Linked DNA regions of Homo sapiens. The protein of the gene in region 1 interacts with the protein of each later gene in a pairwise test. Each region holds a gene or a part of one and is shown in the gene's direction. Other genes may lie near its edges.

Region 1 (3,500 bases):
CTCCCAGCCCGGGAGCCGTCTGCCTGTGTGGGAGTTGAACGCTGGCTGTCCCGGTGGCACAGCCTAAGGAGAGGAGGCTTTTTTTTTTCCACAGGAAGTTTCAAACACGTGAAAACAAACTTTGGATGCTCTCTCCTCAGTGTGTGACATGGTGTATATAATACTGAAATATTGAACATAAATTGTTAGTTCTCTGTTGTTATAGGAGCTTCCCATATTCATTTTGAAATGAACATTCTAGCAGGTAATAACTATTTTGCATAATTTCAGTGTGTGATTATACCTGTAAGAGCACATCAGGATGATTTGTCTTTCTGTGAATTCCAGAATTACAAACGCCATATGGACGGCATGTACGGGCCCCCAGCCAAGCGCCACGAGGGCGACATGTACAACATGCAGTACAGCAGCCAGCAGCAGGAGATGTACAACCAGTATGGAGGCTCCTACTCGGGCCCGGACCGCAGGCCCATCCAGGGCCAGTACCCGTATCCCTACAGCAGGGAGAGGATGCAGGGCCCGGGGCAGATCCAGACACACGGAATCCCGCCTCAGATGATGGGCGGCCCGCTGCAGTCGTCCTCCAGTGAGGGGCCTCAGCAGAATATGTGGGCAGCACGCAATGATATGCCTTATCCCTACCAGAACAGGCAGGGCCCTGGCGGCCCTACACAGGCGCCCCCTTACCCAGGCATGAACCGCACAGACGATATGATGGTACCCGATCAGAGGATAAATCATGAGAGCCAGTGGCCTTCTCACGTCAGCCAGCGTCAGCCTTATATGTCGTCCTCAGCCTCCATGCAGCCCATCACACGCCCACCACAGCCGTCCTACCAGACGCCACCGTCACTGCCAAATCACATCTCCAGGGCGCCCAGCCCAGCGTCCTTCCAGCGCTCCCTGGAGAACCGCATGTCTCCAAGCAAGTCTCCTTTTCTGCCGTCTATGAAGATGCAGAAGGTCATGCCCACGGTCCCCACATCCCAGGTCACCGGGCCACCACCCCAACCACCCCCAATCAGAAGGGAGATCACCTTTCCTCCTGGCTCAGTAGAAGCATCACAACCAGTCTTGAAACAAAGGCGAAAGATTACCTCCAAAGATATCGGTAAGAATTCCAAAGCTTTCATTCTGAAATGAATTCCAGTTGCAGTGTAGAATTTTAATTTTAGTAAAGATGCTGTTCCTGCTCATCTTAAAGGGATGAAAAAATTATGACTAGAAGTTATCAAGATGCGTTTTTATATAGGAGTAATATAGTTGGAGGCTGCTAATCTGAATTAAGAAATAGTGCCAGAAAGATTGGCCGGGCGCGGTGGCTCATGCCTGTAATACCAGCACTTTGGGAGGCCCAGGCGGGTGGATCACGAGGTCACGAGATCGAGACCATCCTGGATAACACGGTGAAATAAAATGGTAGTTTTACGTGTGAATGTTATTTGTGTGAAAGATTAGAGCTTCAAGTAAGAGATCAGGGAATCCTGAGTGGTTATATGCTGTATTTTGGGCTTAAAGATTTGAACTTAACCAAGCCACTTAATCACTACAATACGTGCCTAACAGACCCCCCCATGAGGCTAATGAAATGCTAAAGGTGACCTGAGAAAATCTGAAGGCAAGCCACTCTGTAATTTGGTGACAACATACAGTGAATTTCCGTGGGAAAAAGTTAAAGCTTGTATGTAATATGTAGATTGATAGATGGTATGACATAAAGAATATGCTATGCTGTGATACATAGAACTGATATCATCCAATGCACTGGTAGACTTGGGCCAAGAACCATGTCAATCGAATGCTGATGTTGCTTGTTTATCCTCTGTGGGATGTTCTGAATACTAATCAGAGGTCTGGACTATCTGGAAGTACACACAGGGTTTCTGCATTATTTTTGAAGTACTTTTAACACAGGAAGGAAGATAATAGATCTGAGTTATATTAGGAAAAATTACTCAAAAAATATCAAGAACAAATTGACTTAAAATCTTTTTCAGTGATTAGAAAATTAAAGATATTAATAATTTGAAAGACATCAATCACTGGACATTAAGGAGATGTAGATTGAGAGACCAGGGCAGGAGAATCACTTGAACTCAGGAATTCGAGACCACCCTTGGACAACCTAGCAAAACCTCGTCTCTACTAAAAAGAAAAAAAATTAGCCAAAAGTGAGATTCATTTCTGTAGTCCCAGCTATTCAGGAGGCTGAGGTAGGAGGATCACTTGAGCCCAGGAGATCAAGGCTTCAGCAGTGACTGTGCCACTGTATACACACACACACACACACATATTCCTTTATATATATCTATCCATTTATATATAATGCATGTGTATCTATATCCCTTTATATATATATATAGATAGATATAAATATAGATATATAGATATATATAGAATATGTGTGTGTGTGTATTTATATGGGGTTGCAGAGGGAGAGAAGGAGACACAGACACTGAGCACCATTTTATATATAGAAATATATACACACACACACACGTGTATTGTGTGTTTATGTGTGTATATGTATGTTTAAATAAATACATCTAAATTTTCTAAAAATCTCCCAGTGCGGGTTATATAGCATTTGTCTTCAACCTAGGGAAATTTACATGTTTATTTTTAAAAGTAATTTTGATTTTTTTATTGTAAAAACAGTATGTAGCTATCTTAGAAAATTTTAAAACAGATAAAATAAAAGTGGAAAAGCCACGGTGTCTCCCCCTCATGCAATGATTCTTGGTGCCTGGAGAATGCCCCCAGCCTCCAGGCAGCTCCAGGGATCTGGCCGAGCTGGGTCTCATGGCAAATCTTCCAAACTTTCTACCTGATCATTTTGTTTCCTTCAGTAGCAGGAATAGGGAAAACAACAAATTACTTCCCATTCTGTGGCTCCAGCCATACTCCTGAGAAATCTGAGCCATCAAAGTGCTAATATTTATCACAGCATGTTCTGAGGGCAGGAGCACAGGACTAGAGGAAAGCAGCCTGGGAAGCCAAGGCCGTGTGTCTGAGGAGGCTGTCTTGGAGTTAAATTTTGCTTCCATGTTCTGCATACTTGGCGGCCTTCCAGGACGCCACCTTGAGACACTCGTGAGTGGTGAAGCCAAAAGAAGACAAATACCACTTTTGGGTTTGACTCATTTATTAAAAGCTCTGATACCACATTGCAGACTCTGTAGGGTGGCTGAAAGAAATAACCCGGCCATGAGAAAGGACCATCTGTGCTCAACCACTCCACCTCCAGAAGCACTTTCGGCCCCTGCGTGACCAACAAAGCGAGATCTGAAACCACAAAAGTTTCTCGTTACAGCTATGGCCTCCATTTAAAATCGGAAATGATCACGCTTAACTGTCCTTGAGAGCATTTGTTTAAAGTCAATATTTAACTTAACACTCCACTTATTTTTTCTTACTCTTTCGTTAACTTTCGTTCTTTCATGCATAGAGTCAACATTCATGATATCCTTGTTCTTCCCCATCTTCAGTTACTCCTGAGG
Region 2 (3,500 bases), on another chromosome or scaffold:
ACACACACACAGCACATACCTGTGAATGAAAATTTTTCATGAAATGATTATTATTATACTTATTTTTCGTCAGCTGCTCTGCAATAAAGTCTGTTTTGTTTTGTTGTTTGTGCAAAAGCTGTTTTGTTCCAATTCATTGATTTCACATGCCATTGGTAAATAGAAACCCACAGTTTAAAAAAACGAACCAAACAAAACCTGGTTTAGGGAACTGTTGTTTCATGGAGCAAAAGTTTCTAAAAGGTGTATTTGGTTTAACTCGCTGAGTGTTTTTATAAAAAGCTTTTCTCTATGACTGACCTCAGCTTAAAGATCTATACCACAACTTACTAATAATGAGTTCCATGTAAAACTAAGCAGAATTCACAACTCTTTTGGGGTTCAGGTTATTCTATCATGAGACTTCTCCTTAAAGCTTCTAACCCTCTTCAGCCATTGCTTTAAGGCAGCCTGACTAGATTAAGTAAACAGAACTTGAACACAATGACTTAACTATACTTTATAAATTCATGATTGTTAAGCCACAAAATCAACCTTTCCAAATAAAACTGAGTGTAAGTCAAACTGCCAAGCGAAAAGAGCAGCTATGGAGCTCTCAACTCTCCCTTTTGTCATAGTTTATCTCTGTACAATGCCAGATAAAGCCCAGATGAGGAATAAAGTGATGTGACTATTGCTTTATACTTATTAAATCTCATCCGTTATTGTGGGACCATGCTGCCATCCTCCTCACCTGAGGTGCCCGATAATGATCACCCTAGCGGGGGGTTATAAGGCACCTTTGTTCGAAAGAAGTTTATAGAATTGGACTCAGAAAGGTACAGCTTGCCCTCCAGGGAAGCAAAGGAGAAAATTATATTTAATGCATATTAAACAAACAATTGTTGGAGATTATAAGCTACATCGATTCCAAGATCCCAAAATACTTGAGTCAGCTTACTCCAAAATGTTACCAGCCAGCCACTTTAAACATTAATGAGGTAGCTGGTTTCTAAAATCTGGAAGGAGGAGGAGGTTTTGTTTAAGCCAACTATTTCACAGAAGAGGAAATACAGTTCGACCTCAGGAAATTTAAATGAGACTGCTGAATAACTGGGAAAGAACATCTCCTGTGGATGACAGGGCAAAGAAGAATTAAGCTGATTTTAGGCCAAATAACAAATGTGACAGCTGTGCTTTTTTGTGTATGTATTGGTGTGTGATAGTGTATAATTTCTAGAAAAGCAGTTCTCATGCATTTGGGTCTTGAAAATTTCCACTTTTAAAAATTATTGAGAACTCCAAAGAACTCTTGCTTCTGTAGGCTGTATCTATCAATTTTTACCATTTTAAAAATTGAAACTAAGAAATTAAAAAAATATTGATTGAATCATTAAAAAAACTGTATTAACATAAAATATTTTTATTTAAAACATTGTTTTCAAAAAAGTTATTGAGAAGAGTATTATTGTTTTATATTACTGCAAATCTATTTAATACTTGGCTTAATAAATGGCACCTAGATTGTCATCTTTTCTCCATATACTCTATTGTGTTATGTTGTTTTGGTTGAAGTATGTGAAGCGAAGTTAGTTCACACAAATAAGTAATTGGAAAAGAGAGAACCTCATAGTCCCCTTAAAAGGATCTCAGGGGACTCCCAGGGATCCTTGGGGCACACTTTGAGAGCCACTGTCCTGAAAAGTAGTTTGGAAGACTATGTTAAGAATGGCTGTCCAGGAGTGGTGAGATTATTCACGATTCTTTTTTTCTTTTCTTTTCATTAGTATTTATTTTCTACAAGAAGATGGATTGCTTGTGCAAACTAAAAATGAGAAAGAAAGAACATACTCATGTTGAGGGCAGATTATGGAGGCCCTGGAAAAACCCAGGCAGAGGAGTTTACACTTGGGAGACCAAGGAGCCACTGTCATTTCTTAAATGGGAAAATGATAAGAGCTGTGTTTGGGAGTAAGTGAATTCGAATTGAAAGAGAGAAAGAGAGATGCTACTTCAGAGAAGTGGTGTGGTGAGTCAGACCTCAGGTGTTGGCAGAAATGGAGAGAAAGGACAAACTCCAAAGACTTTGAGGGCAGAATGACCTGAGACCTGGATATAGGAAATACAGGAGAGGGCAGAGTCAAAGACAACAGTTTTAAAATTAAAACATTTGAAGAATGTTTTTTCCCTTCTATCCAACTTTGGGGCCTGGTTCTGTTGCTCAGGCTGGAGTGCAGTGGCGCAGCCTTGACCTCCTGGGCTCGAGCCATTCACCCACTTGAGTAGCTGGGACTGTAGGTGTAGATTGCCTCTTTCTATCCAACTTCAACTTTTTCTGAATGTTACTCCGATTAAGCTAATTGAAGTCTTGTCGTGTTTTCCAGAGTTGGCCACCCTGTTCAAGGGCTTAGGAGAAAGTCAACACACTTCGCAACTTGAATTGGTCCCAGCTGCTCCCAGAAGAACGGGCGGGTTGGTCCCTATGCCACCCCTGGAGAGCTACTCGCCGCCCACTTTGCCGTGAAGGGCTGTGCGGTTCCCGTGCGCGCCGGAGCCTGCTGTGGCCTCTTATGCACTCCACCACCCCCATCAGCTCCCTCTTCTCCTTCACCAGCCCCGCAGTGAAGAGACTGCTAGGCTGGAAGCAAGGAGATGAAGAGGAAAAGTGGGCAGAGAAGGCAGTGGACTCTCTAGTGAAGAAGTTAAAGAAGAAGAAGGGAGCCATGGACGAGCTGGAGAGGGCTCTCAGCTGCCCGGGGCAGCCCAGCAAATGCGTCACGATTCCCCGCTCCCTGGACGGGCGGCTGCAGGTGTCCCACCGCAAGGGCCTGCCCCATGTGATTTACTGTCGCGTGTGGCGCTGGCCGGATCTGCAGTCCCACCACGAGCTGAAGCCGCTGGAGTGCTGTGAGTTCCCATTTGGCTCCAAGCAGAAAGAAGTGTGCATTAACCCTTACCACTACCGCCGGGTGGAGACTCCAGGTGGGTCGTCTTTACGACGTCAAGGTTTATTTTCAGAGTGAAGGTCGTGTGCCCCATTGATGGAGAATGATGGGGCACCAGCAGACAGGGACCTCTCCCAAAAGAGAGAGAGAGAAGAGAGGAGAGGGAGGTTCAGTTTTGAGGGACTCGTCCAAAATTTTGTTTCCCGGAATGAGGCAGCTGTCCAATCAAAGAAAGTTCCCATGAAAACGATATTCCTGCCTGGAATGCCACAGGAACACTCAATCCAAAGAGAATCGCAGTAAAACCCTGTTATAGCCAGTGTGAAGGAATGAAGATAAACTAGTCAGGAAAATCTAGAAAGAAGATATTTTCATTTGATTTCATTATGCTGGTAAGCTTTGTGTGATTTTGAAAATGAGGCAGATGGCTAATCGGAGAAAACTGCCATAAAAGTTTTATTTTGAGGTATCTGGGACAAGTCAACATAATCTTTTACCAGTTCTTGGGGTCCTGAAAGGTTTTAAAATGGCCTTGATAATGATGAGCTGTAAAAATTAAACATCCTCCTCCCCCCG

The links. Proteins that work in one complex are often made in the same cells at the same time.
Region 2: the proteins of ARID1B (region 1) and SMAD9 interact in a two-hybrid assay, tested with the Homo sapiens proteins (one large-scale study listed by BioGRID and IntAct).

Annotation. Positions count from the first base shown.
Region 1 is NC_000006.12:157,200,378-157,203,877, forward strand, and holds part of ARID1B (AT-rich interactive domain-containing protein 1B), read left to right. Parts: intron 1-327; coding exon 328-1,111; intron 1,112-3,488; coding exon 3,489-3,500. UniProt on the Homo sapiens protein: Involved in transcriptional activation and repression of select genes by chromatin remodeling (alteration of DNA-nucleosome topology).
Region 2 is NC_000013.11:36,878,739-36,882,238, reverse strand, and holds part of SMAD9 (mothers against decapentaplegic homolog 9), read left to right. Parts: intron 1-1,461; exon of another isoform or gene 1,462-1,950; intron 1,951-2,363; 5' UTR 2,364-2,549; coding exon 2,550-2,961; intron 2,962-3,500. UniProt on the Homo sapiens protein: Transcriptional modulator activated by BMP (bone morphogenetic proteins) type 1 receptor kinase. SMAD9 is a receptor-regulated SMAD (R-SMAD).